2 linked regions of the Homo sapiens genome follow. The protein of the gene in region 1 binds, or shares a complex with, the protein of each later gene. Links are inferred from orthologs where the notes say so. Each region holds a gene or a part of one and is shown on either strand. Other genes may lie near its edges.

Region 1 (16,210 bases):
GTGCTGGGATTACAGGCATGAGCCACCGTGCCCAGTGAGATAACACTGTTACAGCATCTAACAGCAAGAGGATGGCATAACCAGGAGAAAGATGCTGGAAGGGGCCGTAAATGACCACAATTCAAGGTCGGGCCACAACTTGCCAGGCTCGGGAGAACTCACTGAGGCTGAGGACAGCTTGGGAAGCTCTCGGTCCAGGTGCTGACTGGCAGCTTTCCCCTCGGACTTCACATGTGCATGGGACTCGAGCTTTCCTGGAAAGGCGCCCACCTTGCCTTCCCCTCCCTGATGAGGCTTCACTTCTGGGTGATGCTGCATCCTATTTTGAGGTTTTCCTATAGAATTGTTCAAGTGAGATTCCTCCTGTGAGATTCTCAGAAAATGTCTTGGAGGAAAGAATGTTTCTGAAAGGAGCCTGAGAAATCTCTTCCCCTTCTAGAGACGCTTGCTCTGCCGGGAGCTAGAAAGGAACGGATCTCCATGCTCTGGACCTCATTAGCGAACCTTACCTTGGAGGCAGCTGAGAGCCCTCCCGAGGGGTCCTGATCCTGGGCACCAGCTCGCTCTGTGATCTACCTAAGCCCTTCAATCCCCCGACTCTGCAATGTGAAATCCAAATGCTCCCGGTGTCCTTGTAGCTCTGTCACCCTGGATTCTTGTGGCAAAGAGAGATGGATCTCAGTGGGAGGCTGGTTTTGGATGGAGGGCCACAGGGACTCATGGTCTTGGTGGTGGTTACAGATTTCTTGAGAAATGTCATTCTTTGGCCGGGCACAGTGGCTCACGCCTGTAATCCAGCACTCTGGGAGGCTGAGGCAGGAAGATCACTTAAGGGCAGGAGTGCGAGACCAGCCTGCATAACATAGGGAAACCCGGTTTCTATGAAAAATTAAAAAATTAGCTGGGTGTGGTGGTGCGCACCTGTAGTTCCAGCTACTTGGAGGCTGACGTGGGAAGATCACGTGAGCCCAAGAGGTTGAGGCTGCAGTGAGCAGAGATTGCGCCGCCACTACACTCCAGCCTGGGCAGCAGAGAGAGACCCTGTCTCAAAAAAAAAAAAAAAAAGAAAAAAGAAAAGAAATGTTCCCAGTATGTGATAAGGAGTGAACTAGTGAACTAGTATGAGCAACATGTCCCAGTTTGCCCAGGAGTTTTTCTAGTTGTGGCACTGAGAGTCCTGCATCCTGGGAATCCCTCAGTCAAACAGGGACTGTCGGTCACCCGTCGTCCGTAGCTCCCTGTGGTAGGAGGAGGGTGAGCCAGTCCGAGTTGGTGGTGTGTCCTCCCCTCGCCTCTGCCCTCTGCTCCTTACACCTTTCTCCCCAAACAAGGTGGGGAGATTCTCTGCCAGAGAAGGGAAGGTAGAAAAGACCTGTTTAAGATGAACAGAGAAGATGCAGTGAGCTGAGATCGTGCTGCTGCACTCCAGCCTCAGTGACATAGTGGGACCCTGTCTAAAAAAAAAAAAAAAGAGCTGGACACGGTGGCTCACACGCCTGTAATCCCAGCACTTTGGGAGGCCAAGGCAGGTGGATCACCTGAGGTCGGGAGTTCACGACCAGCCTGACTGAGATGGGGAAACCCTGTCTCTACTACAAATACAAAATTAGCCAGGCATGGTGACGCATGCCTGCAATCTCAGCTACTCAGGAGGCTGAGGCAGGAGAATTGCTTGAACCCAGGAGGCAGAGGTTGCGGTGAGCTGAGTTTGGTTTGCCCCATTGCACTCCAGCCTGGGCAACAAGGGTGAAACTCCTTCTTAAAAAAAAAAAAATTAACAGAGAAGGGGAAAGAGTAAGTGTCAGGATGTCGCAGAGCCTGCCCTCCTCACCCTCACGATTATCAGGGCTTGGCCTCCTGCTTGGCACGGGCACACAGACGCTCCTCAGGGCCTACTTGGGCCTCCTGGTCTTCGGGCTCCCATGTGGGGCCGCGCAGCAGGAAGTCACATAGTGGTGTCCAACCTTTCCTCGGGTGCAATGCTCTTGTGGGCATTCACAGGTAGGGTGCCCAGGTGTGTGCCTGCTCATGTGCTCCCCCAACTAGCACCTTTCCCTGCTGCCGTGCTGCTGGGCCCACCCACTCACGAACTGTAACCGGAACTTCAGCAAAACACCCACGGAACTCGAGCTATGCAAATAGGTGCACACACACGGAGGGATCCAGGGAAGAGAGCCAGGAAGTGACACAGGCAGGCAGAGGATTCCTGGAGGGATCTGAAGGAGCATGTGTACAGGGAGTCAAGGACTGGCACGATGGCCTTTTGCTGTCCGGGGGCAGTGGCGTCTGTGCACACTGCACACTCACCTCTCCCAGCCTCCTTACCTATGCTCATGCCCGGGCCCCACAGGCCTTGGCATCGGTTTGGGGACAGGCCTGGAACATTAAGAGACATTTCCCACCCTCTCCCTGTAGGAACCTCCCAGGGTGGCCAGACCTGTGTGAGTACCAGGAGCCAGGTCTCTGGCACAGCTCCCCAGGAGAATGGGCAGGCCTGGGCGTGCTGAGGGAGCAGGCGTTGGGGGCTCTTACACAATCCCAGCCAGGCTCGCAAGGCGGGAGGGTAGAAAGGCTCCTGGCAGCTCCCCAGGCCCTTATGCCTGGATAAGGAAACCACAGTCTGAAACTCCTGGGTTTCTGAAGGGCTGGAAGGCGGGATTTTTTGAGACCTGCTCCACTCCACCTGCCTCCCAGACTCTGTCATGCCTTTGAGGCCAGAGGGGCTGCCAAGCATGTCGGGCACCAAATCACAGGCTTCCAGAAACTAGAGAGGCCAGTGCCCTCATTTCCCACTGAATACGGAAAGAACTTGCTGAAGACATTGTTCCTTTGTCCAGAGTCCTACAAGCTCTGTAAAGCCAACCCACTTAGGTACAGATAGCAGCTGGAAAATGGGGTGCAGTGGTTTCCCAAATGTGTCGGACACTATTTTAAGCACTTTCTGAATATTAACTTATTCAATTCTCACAATAATCCTGCAAAGTAGGAACTATTATTGTCTTCTCTTTTTTATTTGTTTTTATTATTTTTTTAATATGAAGTCTCACTCTGTTGTCCAAGCTGGAGTGCAGTGGCGCTATATCAACTCACTACAACCTCCACCTCCCGGGTTCAAGTGATTCTCCTGCCTCAGCCTCCTGAGTAGCTGGGACTACAGGCACGCGCCACCATGCCTGGCTAATTTTTGTATTTTTAGTAGAGATGGGGTTTCACTATGTTGGCCATGCTGTTCTCTAACTCCTGACCTCGTGATCAGTCTGCCTCGGCCTCCCAAAGTGCTGAGATTATAGGCGTGAGCCACCATGCCCGGCCTCTCTTTTTTATTTTTAATTTTTATTTTTATTTTTTATTTTTTGAGAAGAAGTTTCACTCTTGTCACCCAGGCTGGAGTGCAGTGGTGCCATCTTGGCTCACTGCAACCTCCGCCTGCCGAGTTCAAGCGATTCTCCTGCCTCAGCCTCCCGAGTAGCTGGGATTACAGGTGCCCACCACCGCGCCCAGCTAATTTTTGTATTTTTAGTAGAGACGGGGTTTCACCACATTGGCCAGGGTGGTCTCGAACTCCTGACCTCAGGTGATTGCCCGCCTTGGCCTCCCAAAGTGCGGGGATTACAGGTGTGAGCCATCACACCCAGCTTATTTTTAAATTTATTATTATTTTTTATTTTTCTCGAGACGGAGTCTTGCTCTGTTGCCCAGGCTGGAGTGCAATGGAGCAATCTTGGCTCTGCAACCTCCACCTCCTGGGTTCAAGTGATTCTCCTGCCTCAGCTTCCAGAATAGCTGGATTATAGGCGTGCACCACCATACCCAGCTAATTTTTTGTATTTTTAGTAGAGATGGGGTTTTACTATGTTGGCCAGGCTGGTCTTGAACTCCTGATCTCGTGATCCGCCCGCCTCAGCCTCCCAAAGTGCTGGGATTACAGGCGTGAGCCACAGCGCCTGGCCTATTTTTTATTTTTTAAGACAGAGTCTTGCTGTGTTGCCCAGGCTGGAGTACAGTGACACCATCATGGCTCACTGCAGCCTCAACCTCCTGGACTCAAACAATCCACTCACCTCAGCCTTCTGAGTAGCTGGGACTACAGGCACATGCCACCATGCCCGGCTAATTTTTAAAAAATTTTTAGAGTCGATGTTTCGTCATGTTGCCGAGACTGGTCTCCAACTCCGGAGCTCAAGCAATCCTCCTGCTTAGGCCTCCCAAAGTGCTGGGGATAGAGGTGTGAGCCACCACACCTGGCCGTCCTCTCTGTTTCTTAGAGGAGAGAAAGTAACTTGCCCAATTCACAAAGCTAGTGTATGTCAGGGCTGCCATTTGAACCCAGGCAGCTTAAAAATTCATTCTGCCTGATCTTTTGGGGATCAAGCAGATTTGTGAGATAACCAATTAGAAATATGTTGTAAATGGCTTTAGGAGCAGGCTTAGTTGCAAACTGAAGTGCCCACAGGGCCAGGCAGATGAAATCAATGTGTTACTCAGGCTGGGCGGGGAGAGGCCTGTGGGCCATGTGGACAGTGTGTAGACCACCCAGAGGTGTCCCTGTGAAAATTCCCCCAAAACAAGCCAGGCACAGTAGCAAGCATCTGTTGTCCCAGCTACTCAGGAGGCTGAGGTGCGAGGATAGCTTGAGCTCAGGAGTTGGAGTTCAGCTTGGGCAACATAGCAAGACCCCATCTCAAAACAAAACAAAACATGCCTGGAGGACATATTGGGTCCCTTGCTCACAGCAGCTCTAGCCGAAGCCCACTGTATCTCAGGCTGGGGTCAGGAAAGCAGGCTTACCAGGGCACACCAGCTTGTCTTGGGGGGTTTGAAGGGCAAGGTCACCAAAGTGCCTGACTTCCTCTGTAATAACAAAGGGCATGAGATGTATCAATGAGTGGAAGTGACAGAGGACAGGAAGAATAGTCTGTTCAGAAACAGCAAAAGAGGGCCGGTGTGGTGGCTCATGCCTGTAATCCCAGCACTTTGGGAGGCTGAGGCGGGCGGATCACTTGAGGTCAGGAGTTTGAGACCACCCTGGCCAACATGGTGAAACCCCGTCTCTACTAAAAATACAAAAATTAGCTGGGCATGGTAGCAGGTACCTGTAATCCTGGCTTCTCAGGAGGCTGAGGGAGGCAGGAGAATCACTTGAACCCACGAGGCGGAGGTTGCAGTGAGCCAAGATCATGCCAATGCACCCCAGCCTGGGCAACAGAGTGAAACTTCGTCTCAAAAAAAAAAAAGCCTGGCACGGTGGCTCACGCCTGTCATCCCAGCACTTTGGGAGGCCGAGGTGGGCGGATCATGAGGTCAGGAGTTTGAGACCAGCCTGGACAATATGGTGAAACCCCGTCTGTACTAAAAATACAAAAATAGTAAACCCCATCTGTACTAAAAATACAAAAATTGGCCAGGCATGGTGGTGCACGCCTGTAGTCCCAGCTACTCGGGAGGCTGAGGCAGAAGAATCCCTTGAACCCGGGAGGCGGAGGTTGTGGTGAGCTGAGATCACGCCACTGCACTCCAGCCTGGGCTGAACAGAGTGAGACTCTGTCTCAAAAAAAAAAAAAAAAAAAAGAAACAGCAAAAGAGGTAGGGAGCTACCTGTTGCTGAAGGAACACGGTTCTTCATAGCCTAAATAACTCCCCCACTATGAGCTGTCAGATACCACACTCCTGGGATGAGAGGGAGGTCCATGGGGGCAACTTCTGCCCCAGGGCTCATCTAAAAATGCAGATTCCTCTGTTTTAGGACTTAGCCTCGGCTCCATCATTGATCCAGTGGGTAACTCCAAGTCCCTTGCTATAATCTCTAGGTTTGCTTTTTTGATTTGTTAAAAGGAGGGTTATATCAGAAGTTGAACCTGTAAATGTGTTGATTTTCAGTTCGTTTTCACCTACATAGACATCAGTTTCATATGGTTCAACTCCATAACTGTCCTACCCACCTTGTACATGAAAATGAAGCATGAGTCAAAGGCTCACTGCCATGTACACAGCGGGCATTCAGTGAGTGTTTGGGAAATTTAAGTGGTGGTTCTGGAACCAGATGGGCATGAGCCTTCCTCACCCACTTCTAGCAAAGGCACCTGCATGGGAATAACGTCAGAAAACAGTTCTTTTTTTGTTTTTTTTTTTGAGATGGAGTCTCACTCTGTTGCCCAGGCTGGAGTGCAATGGCGTGATCTCAGCTCCTGCAACCTCTGCCTCCCGGATTCAAGCGATTCTCCTGTCTCAGCCTCCCGAGTAGCTGGGATTACAGGCGCACGCCACCAGGCCCGGCTAATTTTTGTATTTTTAGTAGAGACGGGGGTTTCACTATGTTGGTCAGGCTGGTCTCGAACTCCTGACCTCGTGATCCACTCACCTCGGCATCCACCCACCTCAGCCTCCCAAAGTGCTGGAATTACAAGCGTGAGCCACCGCGCCCGGCCAGGCAAAGCAGTTCTTAGAGGGAAATTCACATTCATCAGTTCCTTCTGGGTGTTTGACCTTCCCGCTCCCACAACAGCCTGAATCCAGAACTGTCAAGTCTGGTTTTCAGCTATGGACACAGTCCACTGCCCGAAGGCCACCATCCAGACGACGGGGAAGCCTTGATGGCCTTTCCGGAGCCACTGCCCGAAGGCCACCACCCAGACGAGGGGGAAGCCTCGATGCTTAGAGATGGTACAAGCCAGGCTCTCATTGCATCTGGGTTTCGTGGAAAAAACAATCCTCTCGAGGGTAACTGGAACTTAATGGATGCGCCGCAGGTGGAAGGCGCTCTGTCCCCCTGTTTACGATGACGCATAATCCCTCCAACTCTCTGAGAATGTGACACAAAGGAGGGGGTCACGGTGGCTGAGGTCAAGGAGCCCTTCCTCTGTGAAGGGCGGCCCCAGGTCTGCGCGGCGGTGAAGACAGACTGGCAGTGGGAGGGAGGGAACCCGACAAAGAGTTGAGACGCGTAGTCCTCGGGAACAGCACTGTGGAAGTCCCCCGGATTGAGGCGCGCCCGTCCAGTGGAGAATGCCACCTCCAGCCACTGGGGCGCCTGGGGGCAGGGCGGAGACACAGCGGGCGTCCCTTCGCCGCTGCATAGGAGGGCGACCGCTGGGCAGCGGGTGTTGGCGCGGTATCCCCGCCCTGCCCAGCATCTGCCCCACGTTTCTTCAGGCTAAACTACCGGGATCCCGGGCTTCTTCCTAAAGTAAAACTCGCTCCGGAAAGGCCAACAGTCCAGCGGCCAGACGGGCACCTGGGAACGCGGGCCTAACGCGTACTGGAGACGGAGTGGCGCCCGGCACTGCGCGCCTCCTCCCCGCCGGGAGACTGCGTGCTAAGCTCAGCAAAGCCCCGCTGTGGAGACGGAGCCATGTCGCCCATTACCTAATGAAACTGAGAAGGGAGACTCAGTCTCTCTTCTAGCCCCGAGCGCAAGCTCTGCTGGACTTGGCATCGTCCGCCCTCCACGATCCCACACTCCGGGTTTTCCCCATTCCCAGCTCGGCTGCAACCGAGAGACAGACGGAAGAAACTGCCAATGGAAGGACGCAAAGCGTCAACTTTGTGTTCGCCCGCCACTCTCGGCCAATGTGCGCTCGTGTCTCCGGAGTCCCGCCTTCCGTGTCGGGCGCCCCCTTTTGGCAGCACAGGGACGAACCCTACGTCTCGCCATCTTGTGTGTGGCACAGGTAAATTTCTGGACTATCTTTCCACCTATTCTGGTCCTTTTTCCCACACAACCGATTTCTTAGTTCGACAGCTAAGTGCGGTGGCGATAAGGCCAGCGTAGCCTGTTGTTCTCGGATCGCCCACGTGAGCTAGATCGCTACGTCACGCCACGCTTGCCGAGCCCGGCGCCATCTTGAGTGTGGCGTTTTGATGCTCCCCTTTCTCGGGGCTCCGCATGGTTCTCTAAATGGTCCCCCAAATTTCAGGTAGTCCCCAAAGATTAGCCCAACTGGCTCCAGAGACGATGATTTTTCCCGAGGAACTCTGTAATGTTCATGTGCCCATCGCAGTCCAGCAGTGGGGTGGGAGAAGGGTAGACTCGATGGCCCGGCAGGCCCCTGGAGGAGGCTGCCCTGAGGCTGTCGCGACGGCAGTGACCGCTCGGGACAGACCCTAACTAGAAACCTAGAATGAGGGGACCGCTATGCCGTGCGGGGCCCGCGGGCTGTCCCACTCGAGGGCTGGAGCCGGCATCGCGCATCGAGTCCGCTTGATACATGAATCCGTGTGTGCTTGGGACGGTGCCCGCTTGTCGACTGACTTGGCCGACGGACGCCGGACCTGATGGTGGGCAATCGAGGTCGCCTGCCCACAGGACTAGGGGTGCCCTGCCCTGGGAGGGCGCGAGGGCATGGCAGAGGGACGGGGCGGCCCAGGTGCCCGGGTCTCGGCCTCGTGACCTCGTTGCTCGTCGTGGGGCTGCCGTCCACTTGCACTGGGACAATCCTTGGTCCAAGGCGCCCAGGCGCGGGGGGCGGGCACCTCCGCGGGCACTGCGCTGGGCACCGCCCGGGGCGAGCGCGGCCCAGCACCCCGCCTTCCCCTCCCCCGCGCTGGCAGCCGTCGTGTGCCCGCCGCCCCCTCTTCCCTCCCCCTCCTTCCGAGCAGCCGCGGGGAGGGCGGGAGAGGGAGGGAAGGGGGTTGGGCGGGCAGCTTTGCCGCGCTTTGGCTTTCTGCGTCAGCAGCCCCAGCAAAACAGCTGCGGGAGCGCGCGTCCGGAACGCGCTCGCGCACCCCTCCCCCGCGCCCTCGGCCCTGCTGAGACCCGGCAAACTCCGGCCTTGAATGACAGTGCGATCGGCGACTGCGCAGCGCGGGACGCGCCGGGGCACTGCCGCTTTAAGCACGCTTGTCCATTGTTCGGAATCGAGCCAATGAGCGAGCGCCCGCTCCCTGCGCTCAGCCAATAGCGGCCGGGCATGGGAAGCCGAGCGCCGCCCACTAATCTATATTAAAGCTTCTGGCGCCGCGTGAGTCCCCCACTGGCTGCTCTGAAAAGCCATCTTTGCATTGTTCCTCATCCGCCTCCTTGCTCGCCGCAGCCGCCTCCGCCGCGCGCCTCCTCCGCCGCCGCGGACTCCGGCAGCTTTATCGCCAGAGTCCCTGAACTCTCGCTTTCTTTTTAATCCCCTGCATCGGATCACCGGCGTGCCCCACCATGTCAGACGCAGCCGTAGACACCAGCTCCGAAATCACCACCAAGGTGAGGCTGGACGCCGCCCGCCCCCTCGGGGTCCGCGCGCCGCCGCTCGGGCGGTGTTTGGCGCGCAGCAGCTGGACTGTCTCAAGCCCGCTGTTGCTCCCTCTCGCGGGGAAACGGCCCGCCCCCGGCGCGGTGCCCTCAGGCAGCCCACTCTTTGTGTGGTGCGGGGGAGGGGGCGGGAACCGCCGCGGGCAGACGTGATGCCCGTCGGGGAGTGGGCCGGGCGCCCTCGGGGGCCGAGGGCTAGGCGCGGAGGCCGGCTCACGGCCCTCGAAACTCGTCTGTGGCCGGTATGAGTGGCGGCGGGAGGAGAAGAGCCTGGCTGGGGGTCGTCGGCCCGCCGGGCGCACGGAAATAACTTTGAAACTCAAGCGCGTTGGGAATCGGAAGTGCTGGGGGGCGCGTGTTGGGGCGCGGGCCGGCCGCGGGAAGTGGCGGCGAGCGCCCGCCGGCCGCGCTGCTCTTTGTTCGGCGCCAGGCCGGCGGTTTCGCGCCCTGCAGCGGACCTGAGGTGGTTTGTCTAGACTAAGTCCCGATAAGGCGGATGGGGCGACGGGCTGGCTGGCCGCGACGTCGGCCGTCCCGGCGGAGGTGTGACGGGCTTATCCGCTTTGGGCGCTCTGGGAGGCGGGGGTGGGCGCCCTTCGAGGTGAGTGCGCCGGGAGCGGCCGCCCAGCTTCAGTCATGCACCCGCGGTGCCGGGCTTGGCTGAGGAGGCGAGAGCCCACGCGCCGCAGGGAGGAAAGAGAAAGTGAAGCGCGGCGCTGGGGCGACGATGGGCGCCCCCCGCGGCTGCCCGGGAGCACCGTGTGCGCCGCAGCTCGGGGCGACGCGGGCCAACACGGCGGCCGCGACAGGCCAATGGTAGGGTCGAACTGGGGGGGCGCCCGGGCCCCGTGGCGGGTTCACTGCCCTCGGCTATGAGGTCCTGCGCGGCTGGTGCGGCTCCGCTCCTGTTGTCGGCGCCGCCTCGGTCCCACTGCCCGCCCTGGGTAGCGTCTCCGCCCTTGGCGGGAGCGGGGCGCTCTCAGACTGACTGGCTCTTTCTTAATATTTCGGCCCTCGTCCGCGCCCGTCGTGCCCCTGCAGGGATTGGCGCGAGTCACCTTGGCGTCTCCTTAACCCTTGTGTCCCTGGCGTCATCTCTGACTCTCCCAGGGGCGACTTCTTGGCAGAGCGGAGCTCGGGGCCCGGATCTCCACAGGGGCTCTCAGTGACCCCTTCTGGACTCAGTCCGGGAATGAGTTTGTGGGGTGAGAACACCGTCCCCAGTGCGGGGCCTGGCTGTTCGATTTTCTCCGAAGCACCAAAAGGTGACTTCCCGCGAGGGCGATGAGTAGTAGCCCGAGAGGCGCATCCCCGACAGTCTCGGACCTACGCAGCCCGGTGGACTTTGGGGCGACCTCCCGTGGGACTTGGCCCGCCGAATGCAGACATTCGGGCCTGCCGGGGTGGCGGCAGTGGGGCGTCGAGTCGAGAGCCCGGCCGACCGACGCGCGACCCGCGCGCGTGCCACTGCAAGCTCTGCCTGCCGGCCGGGAGTCTCCAAGGCAAGGGACGCACTCGGCGGCCCCGGGCCACGTGCTCCCTGCGCGCGGTGCGTGCCGAGGCCCGCGCGCAAAGCCCGCCGGGCGGGGGATGCGCGCCTGCGCGCCGCGACCTCCCTGCCCCCACTGCTCCCCGGGGCTTCGGCCGCCAGGGGGCGAGAGCGGGCGGAGCCGGGGTCCGCGGAGCGGAGCGGGGCGGGCCGGACTGAGAGGGCCGACAGGTGGCCCGGAGCCGCTCGCCGGACAGCGGCCGAGGGGTTCCCGCAGGCCCGGACGCCGGACCTCTGTTGGTATTGGTGGCCGTGTCGTGTGGAAAAAGTTACCGGGCGCCCGGGGCCGCGCTGCCTTTTGGATCCCGGGCGGAGTCCCACCCCCGAGGTGCTGTCGGGATCCCTAGCCGCCGCGGGGAGGCCGGGAGTTGGTGGCTCCGGCGGCAGGCCCCGGCCTGGGGCACCGCCAAGCAGCGGTTTGCGGCCTCTAGGAACAGCGGTCGGATTTGGGGGGTCGGTGTGCTTTGGCTTTTTTAGATACCTGTCCTGGCCGGGGCGGTGCGGCCTCGCGGGCCTTCCAGGCTGGCGCGCCTGTGGGGCTCTCCCCGAGCGCAGGCCCCTCTCTCTTTGCCTTATTTATTTTTGGAACATAACCTGCCGCCTTTCTAGACGGCTCGAGGGGCGGGCTCTTTGCACTTGGAAGCAGGCTGATGGGCGTGAGTGTCCGGGGCTCGTCCACCCGGCCGGACGGGCTGGGGGCTGTGGCGCCACATGGCTCCTTTTTCCTGGGAAGCGCCAGGGGGCAGTGGGAACCGCCACCGGGGCCGCTGTAGCGGGCCTTAAAGGATGGGAAACCTTGATCACAGATGCCCCCCGCCGGCCTTCCTTCCACCAGACCAGTGGGAGAGGGACCGCAGGGGCATCAGGCCTTTCTCAACATGCGACTCTTAATTTGGGACGGACAGAACAGCCGTACAGACCAGTAGTTCTCAGCGCCTTTGCTTACCCTGGGTTGCTCAGAAGACTTACTGGTTACTGGTTCCTTCTTCCCTTTTGAAGGACTTAAAGGAGAAGAAGGAAGTTGTGGAAGAGGCAGAAAATGGAAGAGACGCCCCTGCTAACGGGAATGCTGTGAGTGTCTGCTTTGCTCCTGAGCCCTGGCAGCTACCGCCCCACAAAATTTTTCCTGTTCTACTTTAAACATACCTATATATGTGTGTGTATGTGTATATGTATAGCTTTGCACAGTGGCAGTATCGTAGCCAATGAGCTTTACCCGAGGCGCGATTATTGCTAGTTAAATATTTATAAAAACCTTTCGAGCAGCGCCTGAACAAGAATAGGTTCAGAGGAGACTCCGGTAGTCTGAGTTTGGGCTTGGCCCAGGGTGGGGAAAAGCCCTTGTCCTGGGGCAGTTAATGTGCAGGTTTCATGATGGAGCCTGGAGGGTGTTGACTGGAGAAGGGTCTCTGGGGTGGGCTTGGCTTGGCTGGGCTGTAGATGCAGCCGCCAGCCTCTGGTGGGAGGCCGGGCATCAGGAGCAACGCTCTGTCCAGCCTGGGGCCAGCTGGTAATGACATGGCCTGTTTTCTGTCGAGGAGAATGAGGAAAATGGGGAGCAGGAGGCTGACAATGAGGTAGACGAAGAAGAGGAAGAAGGTGGGGAGGAAGAGGAGGAGGAAGAAGAAGGTGATGGTGAGTAGCCTTGTCTATCTTCCCCTTTTCAGGTACTTTTTCCTGGCCTTGTCTGGCAGAAGGGGAAGGAAGGAATTGGGGCTCCTGGGAGTGGGACAATGGTACTTGGGGCCAGTGGACCACATGGCCCTGGGCACCCACCTGTAGAGTCAGGGAAGGTCTCCCTGACATGGAGTTGTGCCCATGCCCACTCACACTCACTCGCACACCTGAAAGTTTCTTTCGTGCAGCTCTGAAAGCCACTGATCTATTGGGCTGGCCTTTTGGGGTGCAGCTGCTTGGGCCTCTCTCCTCTGGAGAGTCCCACCTGTGTAGTGGGCGTGGGTGCCCTGATTGGGCCCAGTTGCAGGCAGTAGAGGCAGGGCAGGGACCTTGCAGTCCACTACATGTTCCTCGGGATTTCCCCAGGAGCCACAGTAGGAGGGAAGTGTGGTTTACCTGGCCTTTGATTCTCTCCAGGTGAGGAAGAGGATGGAGATGAAGATGAGGAAGCTGAGTCAGCTACGGGCAAGCGGGCAGCTGAAGATGATGAGGTGGGTTCTGGCTTGAGAAGAAGGGGGGTTTGGCATCTGGGTCTCCCCACCTGCCTTTAGCTGAGGTGCTCAAGCTGCGGAGGGACTGTTTCTGACTTTGTAGGTGGCCACTGTGTGGTCCTGAATCTTAAGAACAGGAAGGAAACAGGGCTGGGCTCAACTTCCCAGAGGCCTTGGGCTGTGGAGCTGGGGGTCCCTGGTTCTTGCTCTGCCAGCAGGAGCTGAGGCAGTGGGCTGGATAGGGCTCCTGGGGTTGGAGGGGCCTTTGACAGTCTTTCTCTGCTTAGGATGACGATGTCGATACCAAGAAGCAGAAGACCGACGAGGATGACTAGACAGCAAAAAAGGAAAAGTTAAACTAAAAAAAAAAAGGCCGCCGTGACCTATTCACCCTCCACTTCCCGTCTCAGAATCTAAACGTGGTCACCTTCGAGTAGAGAGGCCCGCCCGCCCACCGTGGGCAGTGCCACCCGCAGATGACACGCGCTCTCCACCACCCAACCCAAACCATGAGAATTTGCAACAGGGGAGGAAAAAAGAACCAAAACTTCCAAGGCCCTGCTTTTTTTCTTAAAAGTACTTTAAAAAGGAAATTTGTTTGTATTTTTTATTTACATTTTATATTTTTGTACATATTGTTAGGGTCAGCCATTTTTAATGATCTCGGATGACCAAACCAGCCTTCGGAGCGTTCTCTGTCCTACTTCTGACTTTACTTGTGGTGTGACCATGTTCATTATAATCTCAAAGGAGAAAAAAAACCTTGTAAAAAAAGCAAAAATGACAACAGAAAAACAATCTTATTCCGAGCATTCCAGTAACTTTTTTGTGTATGTACTTAGCTGTACTATAAGTAGTTGGTTTGTATGAGATGGTTAAAAAGGCCAAAGATAAAAGGTTTCTTTTTTTTTCCTTTTTTGTCTATGAAGTTGCTGTTTATTTTTTTTGGCCTGTTTGATGTATGTGTGAAACAATGTTGTCCAACAATAAACAGGAATTTTATTTTGCTGAGTTGTTCTAACAAAGCTGTCTCAAGCCTGGTTTTTCTGTTTCAGTTTCTTCAGACCTTCCAGGGCACAAGGATAGGAGGGGGAGGATCCTGGGGACAGTGGGTTGACATTTTGGGAGGCAGTTGGATGTGTCCTGTGATGGGCAGCAGAGTCTGGTGGGTGGGCAGGGACTGAGCTGCAGTTGGCTGGGGGGGCTGCTCACTGGGGCAGTCAGTGATTGCCCCAAGAAGCCTTAACTGGGGAGGAGGACTTCATCACTGGGTGCCACATGGGGACCCTGGTGCCCTGGGGGTGGGGGTTTGCAGTCCTAGACACTGGAAACGGGCCACACGGGACTGCCATTATGTGGAGCGCAGGGTGCTGGTGGTATAGGCCAAGAGGGAACTTGCCAAGCCTCCCAGGATGAGCGTCCAAGTGGTGGCTGCCTCTGCAGGCCTCACAGGTTTAGCTCCATGACGTGGCTCCCCCTGCTGGTGGCACGTGGTACCCCCCGGCCTCTTAGAATGCCGGGGTTTTGGTTTGGCACTGGTGCAGCCTGGCAGTCATCCAACCTTTGGTCTCCAGGTCCCTTAGGTTAGTTGGGCAGGCCCACCCTGCCCCTTGAACACAGTTGGAGAAGTTACTGTGCCGTTTGGATATTCATACACGGGCTGTGAGCAGTGGGTCAGGATAGCCAACTGGAGGAAGTGCCACCAGCTCGTGCCCTCAGAGGTGGAGGTAAGGATTAGAGCTCACCTAGAACCTTCTGGGATCCTCCAATGAGAGCTGCAGGGGCAGGGGCCGGTATAGGCACTGCTAGTGGGCCTGTTGCCCAGGTAGGACCTGAGGAAGCCATCCAGTGGTATCTGCAGGAAAACTCCCAGGAGCAGACTGAAGTGTCTGCAGAGGCCTGGCCTGGGTTAAGGGGAGATGCTGGGAAGGAGGGAAATGTGTGCATTGAAGAGAGCAAGAGAGACCAGTTCCCTCTACCTGCCCCTTGACACCGTGTCCACCCCATTCCATGCCCCCCCGACCTTTGTGTTTCACACCAGGCACCAGAGTTCTGGGGGGACCTTTCCCTTCTCTGGCTGGAGCTTAGTCACTCTCATGGGGCTGCTCAGGCCGCTTGTTCAGCATGTCCCCAGGCAGCTGCCACCAGGATCGGGGGCAGGTTGAGGCCTTGGTAGGAGGGACCCTCTGACCTGTATCTACCCCACACCCCCTGCACAGCCTGGGTATCTGCATCCTGGCTCATCCAGGGAAGAAAGGGAGGGTCTGGAGCCAAAACGCTGGCTCCTCTCTGTTCTGCCGCCCAAGGCGACTCAGTACTGCAGTGTTCCCAAGCTCGGCGCCCAGGAGGGTGTCTCTAAGGCAGGAGTGCAGGCGAAGGCCGTGAAGGAAGGCCACACAGGGCAGGTAGCGCTTGGAGCTGAGAGCAGATCTAACCCAGCTCCCTCAGGCTGCAGTCCTGCTCGGGACCACTACCGCAAGGCCCCTGAAAGGGGAGAAGCTGTGCCCTGGTCCGCACACAGACACGGCAGGCATGTTAGCATGAGGCAAGTAACTGAACCTTGTGGGCTTCAATCCCCTCCTCTGCAAAATGGGAACAATAGGATGAGGCATGAGCCAGGGCCCAGGGCTGCCTTGCTAGGGTCCCCCTGAGACACCCATATCAGCAGAGCTTACTGCCTCTGCTGTCTGAGCTGCCTCATCCCACCAAAGGTTTGGCCTGGAACAGCATTTGCTGGTTCTAGCAGAACACACTTACCCCTAGTCCTGAGCCTAGCACACAATTAACCACTGCCTGAGGATATACCTCAGGGCCCAGAGTCACCTTGATACCACTCCCAAAGTCCCCGAATGACCTCCCACTGGAGCCCAGGTTAAAAGATTATCAAGGAATGGGCGCCCCCTGGTGGACACAGAGGAACTGTAAAGCGTGCCGCTGAATTCTGTCCAGGAAAGACCCTTCAGTGGGCCCTGGTCCCAAGGTAGGCAACGCCAGTCACCCTCCACCTGACTCCCGCAACAAGACCTTTCTCCCTCTCTGTTGCTGGAACCCCAGTCAGATGTGACAGTCAGTGGTCATTTCCCAGACCTTCCTTCTGGGCAACTGATGCCCTCTCCCAAGGACTGAGTCCTTTACGTGGAACCAAAGCTGGAAGCAGGGGTCCACTCTTCCACGGTCTTGGGCTTCCCTGTGGCCACACACACCCTCACTGGACTCCACGCACCCTCACTGGACTCCATGCACCCTCACTGGACT
Region 2 (15,382 bases), on another chromosome or scaffold:
ACACGCAACAAGGATTTGGGGTAGCGGGGTAACTCCAACGTAGCCCTACACGTGATTCCTTCCAGACCCTGAGCCAGGACGTTCAATCTTTCAAATTCACCCTGGAGGCTCCAGGGGCCTAGAGTTTCCATTTATTATTCACTTACATGGCGAAATCCCATCTATCTTTTTTTTTTTTCTTTTCCTTTCGAGACGTAGTCTCGCGCTGTTGCTCAGGCTGGAGTGCAATGGCAGGATTTCGGCTCACTGCAACCTTCACTTACCCACCACCACACCCGGTTAATTTTTTGTATTTAGTAGAGACGGCGGTCTCACCATATTGGTCAGGCCGGTCTCGAACTCCTAACCTCAGGTGATCCACCCGTCTTGGCCTACCAAAGTGCTAGGATTACAAGCATGAGCCACTGCGCCTGGCCTCTCTATCTTTTAAAAATAATTATAATTTGGATGAAATTTAGATGAATTCTTTTTTTTTCTTTTTTTTTTTTTTTTTTTGAGACAGAGTCTCACTCTGTTGCACAGGCTGGAGTGTGGTGGCGCGATCTCTGCTCACTGCAACCTCTGCCTCCCGGGTTCAAGCAATTCTCTGCCTCAGCCTCCCGAGTAGCTGGGGATTACAGGCGCCCGCCACCACGCCCGGTTAATTTTTGTATTTTTAGTAGAGATGGGGGTTTCACCATGTTGGCCAGGCTGGTCTTGAACTCCTGATCTCGTGATCCACCCACCTCGGCTCCCAAAGTGCTGGGATTACAGATGTGAGCCACCGCACCCAGCCTAGATGAATTCTTTAAAATAAACTTACATACATTTATTTAAAAGTTAACGTTACATGATAAACGGTGTGCATGACAAATCAGTATCCCCAGTCATGAAAAATAGCAATGGTTTCTGTCTCTTGGGAGCCAGCATTCGCATTTAATATTTTTATTTTTTATTTACTTATTTATTTTTTTGAGTCAGAGCCTCGCTCTGTGGCGCAGGCTGGAGTGCAGTGCGGTGATCTTGGCTCACTGCACGCTCCGCCTCCCGGGTTCACGCCATTCTCCTGCCTCAGCCTCCTGTGTACCTGGGACTACAGGCGCCCGCCACCACGCCCGGCTAATTTTTTGTATTTTTAGTAGAGACGGGGTTTTATCATGTTAGCCAGGATGGTCTCGATCTCCCGACCTCGTGATCCGCCTGCCTCGGCCTCCCAAAATGCTGGGATTACAGGTGTGAGTCACCGCGCCCGGCCCCGCATTTAGTCTTAATGATAATCTGGTAGGTAGGTGCTATTATATTATTACTTTTTATAGAGAGGAAACTGAACCATAGAGAACTAAGTAAGCGCCCACGGGCACTGAGCTGGTAAGAGGCAGATCCAGGGTTTGAACCCCCCAAAGACGGGTGCCACACGCCTCTTGATAGGAAGTAAATCAAAAATAAAGACAAGGAAGGCCGGGCGCGGTGGCTCACGCCTGTAATCCCAACACTTTGGGAGGCCGAGGCGGGCGGATCATGAGGTCAGGGGTTTGAGACCATCCTGGCCAACATGGTGAAACCCCATCTGTACTAAAAATACAAAAAATTAGCTGGGTATGATGGCGGGCGCCTGTAATCCCAGCTACTCGGGAGGCTGAGGCAGAATTTTTTGAACCCGGGAGGCGGAGGTTGCAGTGAGCCAAGATCGAGCTACTGCACTCCAGCCCAGGTGACAGTGAGAGACTCTGTCTCAATTAAAAAAAAAAAAAAAAAAAAAAGACAAGGAAAACCTGAGGCCTGGGCACAGCGCCTCACACCTATAATCCCAGAACTTTGGGAGGCCAATGGAGTCAGGATCTCTTAAACCCAGGTGTTCAAGACCAGCCTGGGCAACATTGCGAGACCCCATCTCTACAGAAAAACAAACAAACAAACAAAAACTAAAAATTAGCCGGGTGTGGTGGCGCCTGTCTGTGGTCCCAGCTACTCAGGAGGCTGAGGTGGGAGGATCGCTTGAGGCCAGGAGCTCAAGGCTGCAGTGAGCCGCGATTGCGCCACTGCACTCCAGCCTGGGCGTGCAGATCAGAGCGAGACCTTGTCTCTAAAGGAAAAAAAAAAAGAAAGAAAGAAAGAAAAGAAAAGAAAAGAAAACCTAGCGAGGTAGATAATTTTCCCTAGATCCTGCGGCCGCCGGACCACGAGGCCGGCGCTGTGCGTTGTTAAAAGGAGAATAGCAGATGGTGGCGCGCAGCCCCGCGAGGAGACATCCAGCAACGAAATCGGGAGATGGAAGGGACAGTGAGAAGGGGGGCCTGGCTGTGCGCCCCCGCCCGATGCCCCACTCCTCGCCGACGGGCGCCGGGCACCTGCGGGAAGGGCGGGAGAATCGCCGCTCCTTTCCCGCCGCGCCCTTTCCGCCCTCTCCCCGCCTCCTTTTCGGGCGTCCCGAGGCCGCTCCCCAACCGACAACCAAGACCCCGCAGGCCACGCAGCCCTGGAGCCGAGGCCCCCCGACGGCGGAGGCGCCCGCGGGTCCCCTACAGCCAAGGTAAGGCAGGAATCTCCTGGACTGGGTCGCGGTCCCCCGGCTTCCCGGAAGCGCAGTGCGCGGGTGGCATCACTGTGCCCGGAGCCCCTGCGCGCCCCGGCCATCCCCACCCCGAGGGACCCCCTACGGAGGCGACCTGGGGGCTGAGGTGAGCGCTTGGGCAGCAGCGACGGGGAGGGGTGTCCACCCCACCCCTGGTGCGGGCCGGGGCGCGCAGGCCTGGAACTCGGGGTTCAGACTCCCCGCGACTCGGACCACGCGGCTAAGCGCGCTCAGGGTCGCGTGCCCCCGCCCCGCCGCCATGCTGGGCGCCGTGGTGGCCGCGCAGCTGGGCGACAGCAGGCGTGGGCGGGGGTGGGGAGCGGCCCCTCAGCGGTCCCTACCGCCTGAGGCCAGGGCCCGGGGACTTTTATTGTGACACGGCGGGCGCCCGGCTCTGCTTAGTCATGGTGACCTGCGCGCGCTCCGCGCCTCCCCCACGCGCAGCGATGGAGGCGCCGGGGCTCGGGCGGTGGAGGCGGAGCCGGAGCGCGGCCATGGCGGGGTGAGTGAGGCGGGATGTGCCCGGGCTGCGGGCATCGCGGGCCGCGAGCGCCCCTGCGGCCGTGCCCGGAGACCAGGAAAACGGGCGCCACGGCCCAGGGCGCCTCCGAGTTCCCCGCCAGGACTCGGAGGGCCAGGAGGGCGCGACCTGGGTGGATATTTTTGTTGGACGGCGCAACTCTTGGGGTGGCCCGGGAGCGGCGGAAACCGAGCGAGAGAACCAGGAGGCGCTGCGCAGAAGGAGGCCCGGGGGCTCCGAGGCGTTGAGGGGCTCGATCTGCGTTCTGGGGTTGGCAGCCGAGAGGCCGCGGTGGGGTCACTTCCTCGCCTCACTGGGCCTGGTGGAGGCTCAGGAGGGGCATGCGCAGTCGCCCACTTGCCGCTTTGTAGGGTGGGGGAAGTGCCCGGTGCCCAAGGGGCATTGTTGACCGATTGGCCAAAGACCAAGAGGCAAACCCAGGGCCTTGGCACCAGAGTGGGGGCCGAGTGGCACCCAGGGAGGGTGGAGGAGGCCGCTCTGGCAGGCACGGTGGCAGGGCAGTTAGCCAACCACCCGTTTATTGACCCCTGCGCAGTGCCAGGCCCCAGGCGAGAGGCACAGGAGAGGGTTGGCCCGACGCCGACCTACATAGGTCTCCCTGCCATTTGAGGCGCTGGGGCCGGGGACGAGAGACAGTCGATCAACAGACAAGCAAAGGAGGTCATTTCAGTTCCTGACAAGCGCAGTGATGACAATAAAACAGGGAAGAGGAGACTTTGAGTTGAGTCCCAGAAAGAGGGGAGTGAGAACTTGCAGATCCACTTGTGGGGAGCCACTTGGAGATCCCCCACTCCTTTTGAAACGTAACTCACGTCTGGGCACAGCAGCCTATGCCTGTAATCCCAGCATTTTGGGAGGTCGAGGAGGGGGATCACTTGAGGCCAGGAGGTTGAGACCACCCTGGCCAACATGGTGAAATCCCATCTCTACTAAAAATACAAAAAATTAGCCCATCGTGGTGGCTGGTGCCTGTAATCCCAGCTACTCAGGAGGCCGAAGTATGAGAATATCTTTTTTTTGTTTTATTTGAGATGGAGTCTTGTTCTGTCACCCAGGCTGGAATGCAGTGGTGCGATCTCGGCTCACTGCAAGCTCTGCTTCCTGGGTTCACGCCTTTCTCCCGCCTCAGCCTCCCATGTAGCTGGGACTACAGGCGCCCGCCGCCACACCCGGCTAATTTTTTTGTATTTTTAGTAGAGATGGGGTTTCACCATGTTAGCCAGGATGGTCTCGATCTTCTGACCTTGTGATCCGCCTGCCTCGGCCTCCCAAAGTGCTGGGATTACAGGCGTGAGCCACCACGCCCGGTCGAGAATATCTTGAACTCGGGAGGCAGAGGTTGCAGTGAGCCAAGATCGCACCACTGTACTCCAGCCTGGGCAACAGAGCGAGACTCTGTCTCGAAAAACAAAACACAAAACACATAACTCATCTCCTGGCCCTCCAGGATCCAGGGGTTTCCATGAAACCCTTCCTTAAGTCCTTAGCTCTCACTGCACTCCTTCCCAATTCTCCAGATTGACTGTCTCAGCCTCTGAGCCACTGCACTTACTGTTTCCTCTGCCTGGAAAACTACTCCCCAGCCTCCCACTTTATAATAATTTTCATCCTTGTCTCAGCTCCAACCTCACCTTCTCAAAGAGGCTTGGTCTGCCAGATTTTAAAAAACTGCACCCCGGGTCAGGCATGGTGGCTTACGCCTGTAATCCCAGCACTTCGGGATGCCAAGGCGGGCGGCTCACTTGAGGTCAGGAGTTTGAGACCAGCCTGGCCAACATGGCGAAACCCAGTCTCTGCTAAAAATACAAAAACTAGCCGGGTGTGGTGGCGGACGCCTGTAGTCCCAGCTACTCGGGAGGCTGAGGCAGGAGGATCGCTTGAACCCGGGAGGCGGAGGTTGCAGTGAGCCAAGATCGAGCCATTGCACTCCAGCCTGGGTGACAGAGAGACTCCATCTGAAAAAAAAAAAAAAAAAAGCAAACAAACTGCACCCGATTCTCACGTTGTCACAATGCTGTTGTAATTTTCTTCATGAAGCTGTTTTTCCAGGTCTTGCTTATTTTAGTTTATGATTGCTCCTCCCTGCAGTTGTCAGCTCTGGCAGGGTAGGATTTTTGTATTTTGCTCACTGCTGTGTCTTCAGCACCCAGATCAGTGCCTGGCATACAGTAGGTGCCCAGTAAATGGTGAGGCAAATGAAGGAATGAGCTCAACATGCTCTAGAAAGGGAAAGGCCGCCAGATTGCTGAAGCAGAGTGATCAAAGGGAAGAGGTGGCAGGGGCTAATTGCGTAGGGCTTTGCAGGCTGTTGAGGAGTTCAGTTTTACTAGGTACTGTGGGAGGCATTGGAGGATCCAGAGCAGGGGAGAGACATGACTTCATGTATGTTTTAAGATGGGCTCTTGGGCCAATCAGGTTGATCAGGTCGGGGAAGTTTGCAAGTTTGCAAATGGATTCTGCTTCACCTACTTTGCAGGAAAACTGACCTAGGAATTGCTTTATCTTGCAAAACGAGGCCCGGCAGGTGCTGGCCCAGTCCCAACCCCTGCCCTCTGCCCTGTGCTCTCTCCCCTCCAGGTCCCTGAGTGCCAGAGGTGGTGGTGTTGCTTATCTTCTGGAACCCCATGCAGCCAGATCCCAGGCCTAGCGGGGCTGGGGCCTGCTGCCGATTCCTGCCCCTGCAGTCACAGTGCCCTGAGGGGGCAGGGGACGCGGTGATGTACGCCTCCACTGAGTGCAAGGCGGAGGTGACGCCCTCCCAGCATGGCAACCGCACCTTCAGCTACACCCTGGAGGATCATACCAAGCAGGCCTTTGGCATCATGAACGAGCTGCGGCTCAGCCAGCAGCTGTGTGACGTCACACTGCAGGTCAAGTACCAGGATGCACCGGCCGCCCAGTTCATGGCCCACAAGGTGGTGCTGGCCTCATCCAGCCCTGTCTTCAAGGCCATGTTCACCAACGGGCTGCGGGAGCAGGGCATGGAGGTGGTGTCCATTGAGGGTATCCACCCCAAGGTCATGGAGCGCCTCATTGAATTCGCCTACACGGCCTCCATCTCCATGGGCGAGAAGTGTGTCCTCCACGTCATGAACGGTGCTGTCATGTACCAGATCGACAGCGTTGTCCGTGCCTGCAGTGACTTCCTGGTGCAGCAGCTGGACCCCAGCAATGCCATCGGCATCGCCAACTTCGCTGAGCAGATTGGCTGTGTGGAGTTGCACCAGCGTGCCCGGGAGTACATCTACATGCATTTTGGGGAGGTGAGCGGGGAAGTGGGGCTGGGGGCAGTGTCAGGAGAAGGACCAGGGATGGACGAGTGCTCATCACTGTCTCCCCTTGAGATGTCAAGGCAGGAAACTGGAGAAAAAGGAGGTTCTGGGCTGGGTATGGTGGTGTAGTCTCCACAGTTTGAGGGGCTGAGGCGGGGGGATTGCTTCAGGCCAAGAGTTCAAGACCAGCCCAGGCAACATAATGACACCCTGTCTCTAAACAAACAAACACACAAACAAAAAACAACTGGGGCCGGGCGTGGTGGCTCATGCCTGTAATCCCAACACTTTGGGAGGCCGAGGCAGGTGGATCACCTGAGGTAAGGAGTTCAAGACCAGCCTGGCCCACATAGCTAAAACCCATCTCTACTAAAAATATAAAAATTAGCCAGGCCTGGTGGCGGGCGCCTGTAGTCCCAGCTGCTCAGGAGGCTGAGGCAGGAGAATCGCTTGAACCAAGAGGTGGAGGTTGCAGTGAGTGGAGATCGAGCCACTGCACTCCAGCTTGCGCAACAGAGCAAGACTCAGTTTCAAAAAAAAAAAAAATTAAAAAACAACTGGGGTTCTGAGTTCCTTGTCTACACATGTGGGGAGACTGGTGAACAGCTGGGGAAGGTGAGGTCTTCATATGTCTCTGGGCTCCCTGGTTTCTCTGGGGTCAAAGTGGGGCAGAGTGCAGTGAACAGCAGCCAAATCCTAGGGTAGCCCAGCCTTTCGGGCAGTCAGCAAATGTTTATTGGACACCCGTGACAGGCTGCAAGCTGTAAGTCTGAACCTTAGTCATGTTTTCTTTGGTCCACACAATGTCCTTATACTGTTTTTGGTTTCGTTTTCACATTTCTCAGTGAAGGAAATTATCTATAGAAATTGACAAGAGAGGGCAGGGCCCAGTGGCTCACGCCTGTAATCCCAGCACTTTGGGAGGCTGAGGCGGGTGGCTCACCTGAGGTCAGGAGTTTGAGACCAGCCTGACCAATATGGTGAAACCCCATCTCTAATAAAAATACAAAAAAAGAAAACTAGCCGGGTGTAGTGGCATGTGACTATAGTCCCTGCTACTCGAGAGGCTGAGACAGGAGAATCGCTTGAACCGGGGAGGTGGAGGTTGCAGTGAGCCGAGATCGCACCATTGCACTCCAGCCTGGGCGACAGAGCAAGACTCTGTCTCAAAAAAAAAAAAAAAAAAGCCTGGGCGCGGTGGCTCATGCCTATAATCCCAGCACTTTGGAAGGCCAAGGTGGGCAGATCACCTGCGGTCGGGAGTTCAAGACCAGCCTGACCAACATGGAGAAACCACGTCTCTATTAAAAATGCAAAATTAGCCTGGCATGGTGGCTCATGCTTGTAATCCCAGCTACTCAGGAGGCTGAGGCAGGAGAATCGCTTGAACCCGGGAGGCGGAGGTTGCAGTGAGCTGAGATTGCGCCATTGCACTCCAGCCTGGGCAATAAGAGCGAAACTCTGTCTCAAAAAAAAAAGAAAAAGTTTTTGAAGAGATGAGGTCTTGCTCTGTCCCCAGGCTGGAATACAGTGGTGCCATCATAGCTCACTGTAGCCTCCAACTCTTGGGCTCAAGGAGGCCTCCTATCTCAGCCTCCTGAGTAGCTGGGACTATAGGTATGCAGCACCACGCATGGCTAATTTTTTAGTTTTTAAATTTTTTTGTAGAGACAGGGTCTTGCTATGTTGCTGAGACTGGTCTCGAACCTCCTGGCTTTGAACAATCCTCTGGCTTTGGCCTCCCGTAGTGTTGGGATTACAGGTATGAAGCACCATACCAACACCAGGCCAAGAAGTGTTTATTGAGCACTTGCTGTGGGCCAGCCCCTGTTCTAAGTGATTTATGTCCTTTGCATCATTGACTGTTCCCAACTGTCCTATGAGGCAGTACTACCCTTCAGCCTAGGCAAGCAGGGCAGTGCCCCAGGCCCTAAGCCTTCGGGAGTCCCATGTCTTGGTGTTCCTTCCTGGAAATTTTCTAAGTCCCCCACTGGCTGGTACCAGCTGGGATGGATGTTACACTGATCTCTATTTCTCTCCTTCAGGGATAGATTCTTTCCTACCCTCTATGTTACATGTGGGGTTGATCAGACGCCCCAGGGTTCTCTGGCGTTAGTCCTAGGGCCTGCAGCTTCTAGGAAAGTGGTCTATACAGTAGGAGAAACATATACAGTGTTTCTTTCTTGTGTTTGTATGAACATGGGGTACTAGATTAAAACTGATTACATAGACGAGTGCCTGACAACTTTTTTTTTTTTTTTTGAGACGGAGTCTCACTCTGTCACCCAGGCTGGCATGCAGTGGCACTGTATCGGCTCACTGCAACCTCCATCTCCTGGGTTCAAGCAATTCTCCTGCCTCAGCCTCCCAAGTAGCTGGGATTACAGGTGCCTACCACTATGCCCAGCTAATTTTTAAAAAATATTTTTAGTACAGATGGGGTTTCACCATGTTGGCCAGGCTGGTCTCGAACCCCTGAGCTCAGGTGATCTGCCTGCCTTGGCCTCCCTAACTGTGCTGGGATTACAGGCATGAGACACTGCGCCCACGCCCGCCCCCCACCGCCCAGTCCTTTTTTGTTTTTGAGACTGAGTCTGGCTCTATCGCCCAGGCTGAAGTGCAGTGGCAAGATTTCGGCTCACTGCAAGCCTCCATGTCCTGGGTTCAAGCGATTCTCATGCCTCAGCCTCCGAAGTAGCTGGGATTACAGGGGTGCACCACCACGCTGGCTAATTTTTGTATTTTTAGTAGAGACAGGGTTTCACCATGTTGGCCAGGCTGGTCTGGAACTCCTTACCTCACGTGATCCGCCCACCTCAGCCTCCCAAAGTGTTGGGATTACAGGCTTGAGCCACCACGCCAAGCCCCCTTTTTTTTTTTTTTGGGGGTGGGGGACAGAGTCTCACTCTGTCATCAGGCTGGAGTATAGTGGCATGATCTCGGCTCACTGCAACCTCCGCCTCTCGGGTTCAAGTGATTCTCATTCCTCAGCCTCCCAAGTAGCTGGGATTATAGGCATGTGTCACCATGCCCAGATAATTTTTGTATTTTTTGTAGAGATGGGGTTTCACCATGTTGGTCAGGCTGGTCTTGAACTCCTGACCTCAAGTGATCCGCCCGACTTGGCATCCCAAAGTGCTGGGATTACGTGTGTGAGCCACCGCACCTGGCCTTTTTTTTTTTTTTTTCTTTTTTTAGAGACAGGGTCTCACTCTGTCACCCAGGCTGGACTTCAGTGGCACGATCTCTGCTTATCACAAACTCCAGCTCCTGGGCTCAAGTGATCCTCCCACCTCAGTCTCCTGAGTAGCTGAGACTACAGGCGTGAGCTACCATGCTTGGCTAATTTTTATATCTTTTCTTGGTAGAGATGAGGTCTCGCTATGTTGCCCAGGCTGGTCTTAAACTCCTGGGCTCAAGCAATCTTCCCGCCTTGGTCTCCCAAAGTACCAGGATTACAGGCGTGAGCCACCACACCTGGCTACAAGAAATATTTATCCAGGGCTCTGTATACCCTAGAAGTAGCCTTACTTTGAGGTGGCCATTAATATAATCCCATTTTACAGAGGAGGAAAACCAAGACATGGAGCATTTCAGAGATTTGCCCAAGTTACACACCTACGAAGTGGTCGGATCAAAATTCCAACTCATGCTGGTTTCTTCGGAGCTTCCACTTTTTTTTTTTTTGGAGATGGAGTCTCACTCTGTTGCTCAGGCTGGAGTACAGTGGCACAATCTCAGCTCACTGCAATCTCTGCCTCCTGGATTCAAGCGATTTTCCTGCCTCAGCCTCCTCAGTAACTGGGATTACAGGTGCCCACCACCACAGCTGGCTAATTTTTTTGTTTTTAGTAGAGACGGGGTTTCACCGTGTTGGCCAGGCTGGTCTCGGACTTCTGACCTCAGGTGATCCGCCTGCTTTGGCCTCCCAAAGTGCTGGGATTACAGGTGGGAACCACTGTGCTGGCCCAGAGCTGTCACTTGTTTTTTTCCACAACATTCTATTGTGATTGCTTATTTTTTCCTTTTTTAGTCTATTTGCCATTTTAGAAAATGATTTCATTTTAAAAAACAAGATGGGTGAGTTGGCTCGTGCGTATAATCTCAGTGCTTTGGGAGGCTGAGGCAGGAGAATCACATGAGCCCAGGAATTTGAGGTTACAGTGGCACCTCTGCACTCCACCATAGGTGACAGAGCAAGACCCTGTCTCTTAAAAAATAAACTCAGACATCCCATCTCTACTAAAAATACAAAAATTAGCCGGGTGTGGTTGTGCGTGCCTGTAGTCCCAGCTACTCAGGAGGCTGAGGCTGAGGCAGAAGAATCATTTGAACCCGGAGACAGAGGTTGCAGTGAGCCGAGATCACGCCACTGTATCCAGCCTGACGACAGAGTGAGACTCTGTCTCAAAAAAAAAAAAGAAACAAAAGAGGCCGGGCGCGTTGGCTCACGCCTGTAATCCCAGCACTTTGGGAGGCTGAGGCAGGCGGATCACGAGGTCAGGAGATCGAGACCATCCTAGCTAACATGGTGAAACCCCGTCTCTACTAAAAATACAAAAAATTAGCTGGATATGGTGGTGGGCACCTGTAGTCCCAGCTACTCGGAGGCTGAGGCAGGAGAATCGCATGAACCTGGATGGCAGAGCTTGCAGTGAGGCAAGATCGTGCCACTGCACTCCAGCCTGGGCGACAGAGCGAGACTCCATCTCAAAAAAAAAAAAAAAAGAAACAAACAGAAAACTCAGAGGCCAGGCGCGGTGGCTCAGGCCTGTAATCCCAGCACTTTGGGAGGCCGAGGCAGGCAGATCACCTGAGGTCAGGAGTTCAAGACCAGCCTGGTTAACACGGTGAAATCCCGTCTCTACTAAAAATACAAAAACAAAAATTAGCCGGGTGTGGTGGTGGGCGCCTGTAGTCCCAGCTACTCGGGAGGCTGAGGCAGGAGAATGGCGTGAACCCGGGAGGTGGAGCTTGCAGTGAGCCGAGATTGCACCCCTGCACTCCAGCCTGGGCGACAGAGCGAGACTCCATCTCAAAAAAAAAAAAAAAAAAAAAGCCAAGCCAGGTATGGTGATGCACACCTGTAATCCTCAGGAGGCTGAAGTAGGAGAATCATTTGAGCTCAAGAGTTTAAGACCAACGGCCGGACACGGTGGCTCATGCCTGTAATCCCAGCACTTTGGAAGGCAAGGGGGTGGGCCACTTGAGGTCAGGAGTTCCAGACCAACCTGGCCAACATGGTGAAACCCCGTCTCTACCATAAAAATATGAAAATTAGCTGTGCGTGGTGGCACACACCTGTAGTCCCAGCGACTCAGGAGGCTGAGGTGGGAAGATCGTTTGAGCCCAGGAGTTCAAGGCTACAGTGAGCTATGATTGTGCCACTGCACTACAGCCTAGGTGACAGAGCAAAACTGTGTCTCAAAAGCAAAAACAGGCCAGGTCCGGTGGCTCACGCCTGTAATCCTAGCACTTAGGGAGGCTGAGATGGGCAGATCACCTAAGGTCAAGAGTTCAAGACTGGCCAGGCGAGGTGGCTCACGCTTGTAATCCCAGCACTTTGGGAGGCCGAGGCGGGCGGATCACGAGGTCAGGAGATCAAGATCATCCTGGCTAACACAGTCACCCCGTCTCTACTAAAAATACAAAAAATATTAGCCAGGCACGGTGGTGGGCCCCTGTAGTCCCAGCTACTCGGGAGGCTGAGGCAGGAGAATGGCGTGAACCCGGGAGGTGGAGCTTGCAGTGAGCCGAGATAGCGCCACTGCAGTCCGGCCTGGGCAAAAGAGCGAGACTCCATCTCAAAAAAAAAAAAAAAAAAAAAAGAGTTTGAGACCAGCCTGGCCAACATGAAGAAATGCCATCTCTACTAAAAATACATAGTGAAACTCCGTCTCTACTAAAAATAAATACAAAAAAATGGCCGGGCGCGGTGGCTCACGCCTGTAATCCCAGCACTTTGGGAGGCTAAGGCGGGTGGATCACAAGGTCAGGAGATCGAGACCATCCTGGCTAACACGGTGAAACCCCATCTCTACTAAAAAAATACAAAAAAACTTAGCTGGGCGTGGTCGCGGGCGCCTGTAGTCCCAGCTAATCGGGAGGCTGAGGCAGGAGAATGGCGTGAACCCAGGAGGCGGAGGTTGCAGCAAGCGGAGATCGCTCCACTGCACTCCAGCCTGGGCGACAGAGCAAGACTGTCTCCAAAAAAAAAAAAAAAATTAGCTGCTCTGGAGGCACACTCCTGTAATCCTAGCTACTTGGGAGGCTGAGGCAGGAGAATCACTTGAACCTGGGTGGCGGAGGTTGCAGTGAAGCAAGATCACACCACTGCACTCCAGCTTGGGCAACAGAGTAAGAATCCATATCAAAATAAAATAAAATAAAATAAAAATTAACGGGGCATGGTGGTAGGTGCCTGTAATGTCAGCTACTTGAGAGGCTGAGGCAGGAGAATTGCTTGAACCTGGGAGGCAGAGGTTGCAGTGAGCCTAGATCATGCCACTGCACTCCAGCCTGGGTGACAGAGTGAGACTCTGTCTCAAAAACCAAAGCCAAATGATACCCCAGGGTACACGATCTACTGAGTCTTTGCCCATTTTCCTGAGTCCTGATGACATACTTGGCACATAGTATTAACTCTTTTTTTTTTTTCTTTGAGACAGAGTCTTGCTCTGTCGCCCAGGCTGGAGTGCAGTGGCGCAATATCGGCTCACTGCAACCTCCGCCTCCCGCCTCCCGGGTTCAAGCGATTCTTCTGCTTCAGCCTCCCGAGTAGCTGGGACTAGAGGCGTGTGCCACCACACCCGGGTAATTTTTGTATTTTTAGTAGAGATGGGGTTTCACCATATTGGCCAGGCTTGTCTCTCAACTCCTGACCTCGTGATCCGCCAGCCTCGGCCTCCCAAAGTGCTGGCATTACAGGCGTGAGCCACCGCGCCCGGCAGGATTAACTCATTTAGTCATCACAATGTACGCGGTTCCTATTATTTGAATCCCCATTTAGCAGATAAGGAAGCTGAGACTGTCAGCGGCAGTGATAAGTTACTTGTCCCGGTCCTGCTTGGTGAGGTGTGGGGGTGACTGGAGAGTCAGCCCGTCCCACTGTCGCCCTCTGCAGGTGGCCAAGCAAGAGGAGTTCTTCAACCTGTCCCACTGCCAACTGGTGACCCTCATCAGCCGGGACGACCTGAACGTGCGCTGCGAGTCCGAGGTCTTCCACGCCTGCATCAACTGGGTCAAGTACGACTGCGAACAGCGACGGTTCTACGTCCAGGCGCTGCTGCGGGCCGTGCGCTGCCACTCGTTGACGCCGAACTTCCTGCAGATGCAGCTGCAGAAGTGCGAGATCCTGCAGTCCGACTCCCGCTGCAAGGACTACCTGGTCAAGATCTTCGAGGAGCTCACCCTGCACAAGCCCACGCAGGTGATGCCCTGCCGGGCGCCCAAGGTGGGCCGCCTGATCTACACCGCGGGCGGCTACTTCCGACAGTCGCTCAGCTACCTGGAGGCTTACAACCCCAGTGACGGCACCTGGCTCCGGTTGGCGGACCTGCAGGTGCCGCGGAGCGGCCTGGCCGGCTGCGTGGTGGGCGGGCTGTTGTACGCCGTGGGCGGCAGGAACAACTCGCCCGACGGCAACACCGACTCCAGCGCCCTGGACTGTTACAACCCCATGACCAATCAGTGGTCGCCCTGCGCCCCCATGAGCGTGCCCCGTAACCGCATCGGGGTGGGGGTCATCGATGGCCACATCTATGCCGTCGGCGGCTCCCACGGCTGCATCCACCACAACAGTGTGGAGAGGTGAGTGGCAGGGCCTGGGGGTGGGCTCGGAGGGTCCTGCTCCTGGCAAGTCCCAAGACACTGAGATCCGGGTATTCTTCCTGAGGCTGTTTCCTCTTCCTGTCTTCAGGGAGTGGAGGCCTCAGGATGAAGCTAAGCTCCTTGGAGAGTTCTAGTCAGTGACCTTTGATTCTGTGCCTGGGGCTGGGAAATGCTTAGGGGACTGTCACAAACCCATATGGTTCCTTTGTGCGGAGTTGGAAAATGTTCCATCAGTTTGAAATTGTTGGGCTAGGCACTGTGGCCCATACCTATAATCAGGGACTTTGGGAGGCTGAGGTGGGAGGATTGCTTGAGTCCAGGAGACTAGCCTGGGCAATAGAGTAAGACCCTGTCTCTCTTGCTCTGTTGCCCAGGCTGGAGTGCATCTTGGGTCACTGCAACCTCGCCTCCCAGGTTCAAGTGATTCTCCTGCCTCAGACCCTGGGGTAGCTGGGACTACAAGTACCCACCACCACGCCTGGTTAATTTTTGTATTTTTTGTAGAGATGGGGTTTCACCATGTTGGCCAGGCTGGTCTTGAACTCCTGTCCTCAAGGGATTCTCCCACCTCAACCTCCCAAAGTGCTGCGATTACAGGTGTGAGCCACTGTGCCGGACCTAAAGGACTCTTTGAGCATCAAAGAGTGATGCTGAATGTGTGATTTCTCCTTTCTGAGATGTTATCTTGTTATCTGTGAAGTGGGGGATCTGGCTGAGCCACTAGGGGTTTATCAGATGTGTTTTTGAACTTGAGCAATTGATGGCTAGGAGGCTCAGTTTTGTCATTTGGAAAATGGAGTTGCTGATACCTCAATCCTTGGAGAACAACTGCAAGCACTAGAGTTCGAGTGGAGGTGGGCACGGTGGTGTGCACCTGTAGTCCCAGCTACTCAGGAGGCTGAGCCAGGAGGGTTCCTTGAGCCCAAGAGTTGATAGCTGCAGGCTGGGTGTGGTGGCTCATGCCTATAATCCCAGCCCTTTGGAAAGCTGAGGCAGGCAGATCACTTGAGGTCAGGTGTTTGAGACCAGCCTGGCCAACATGGCGAAACCCAATTTCTACTAAAAATACAAAAATTAGCCGGGCGTGGTGGTGGGTGCCTGTTATCCCAGCTACTTGTGAGGCTGAGGCTGAATAACTGCTTGAACCCAGGAGGTGGAGGTTGCAGTGAGCCATGCTCTCACCATTGC

Evidence for each region.
Region 2: the proteins of PTMA (region 1) and KEAP1 are in contact, whole or in part, in a crystal structure (PDB 2Z32), measured with the Mus musculus proteins. The link is inferred for Homo sapiens from one-to-one orthologs. Residues at the interface, in NP_032998.1 of Mus musculus: Gln40, Asn41, Glu42, Glu43, Asn44, Gly45, Glu46, Gln47; in NP_001103775.1 of Mus musculus: Tyr334, Ser363, Arg380, Asn382, Arg415, Phe478, Arg483, Ser508, Gly509, Tyr525, Gln530, Ser555, Ala556, Tyr572, Gly574, Phe577, Ser602.

What each region holds. Positions count from the first base shown.
Region 1 is NC_000002.12:231,699,562-231,715,771, forward strand, and holds PTMA (prothymosin alpha), read left to right. Parts: upstream 1-8,963; 5' UTR 8,964-9,145; coding exon 9,146-9,190; intron 9,191-11,786; coding exon 11,787-11,858; intron 11,859-11,963; exon of another isoform or gene 11,964-12,047; intron 12,048-12,325; coding exon of another isoform or gene 12,326-12,328; coding exon 12,329-12,422; intron 12,423-12,881; coding exon 12,882-12,955; intron 12,956-13,242; coding exon 13,243-13,290; 3' UTR 13,291-13,990; downstream 13,991-16,210.
Region 2 is NC_000019.10:10,490,368-10,505,749, reverse strand, and holds the start of KEAP1 (kelch-like ECH-associated protein 1), read left to right. Parts: upstream 1-2,393; 5' UTR 2,394-2,509; intron 2,510-2,978; exon of another isoform or gene 2,979-3,053; intron 3,054-5,669; 5' UTR 5,670-5,716; coding exon 5,717-6,355; intron 6,356-13,487; coding exon 13,488-14,173; intron 14,174-15,382. UniProt on the Homo sapiens protein: Substrate-specific adapter of a BCR (BTB-CUL3-RBX1) E3 ubiquitin ligase complex that regulates the response to oxidative stress by targeting NFE2L2/NRF2 for ubiquitination.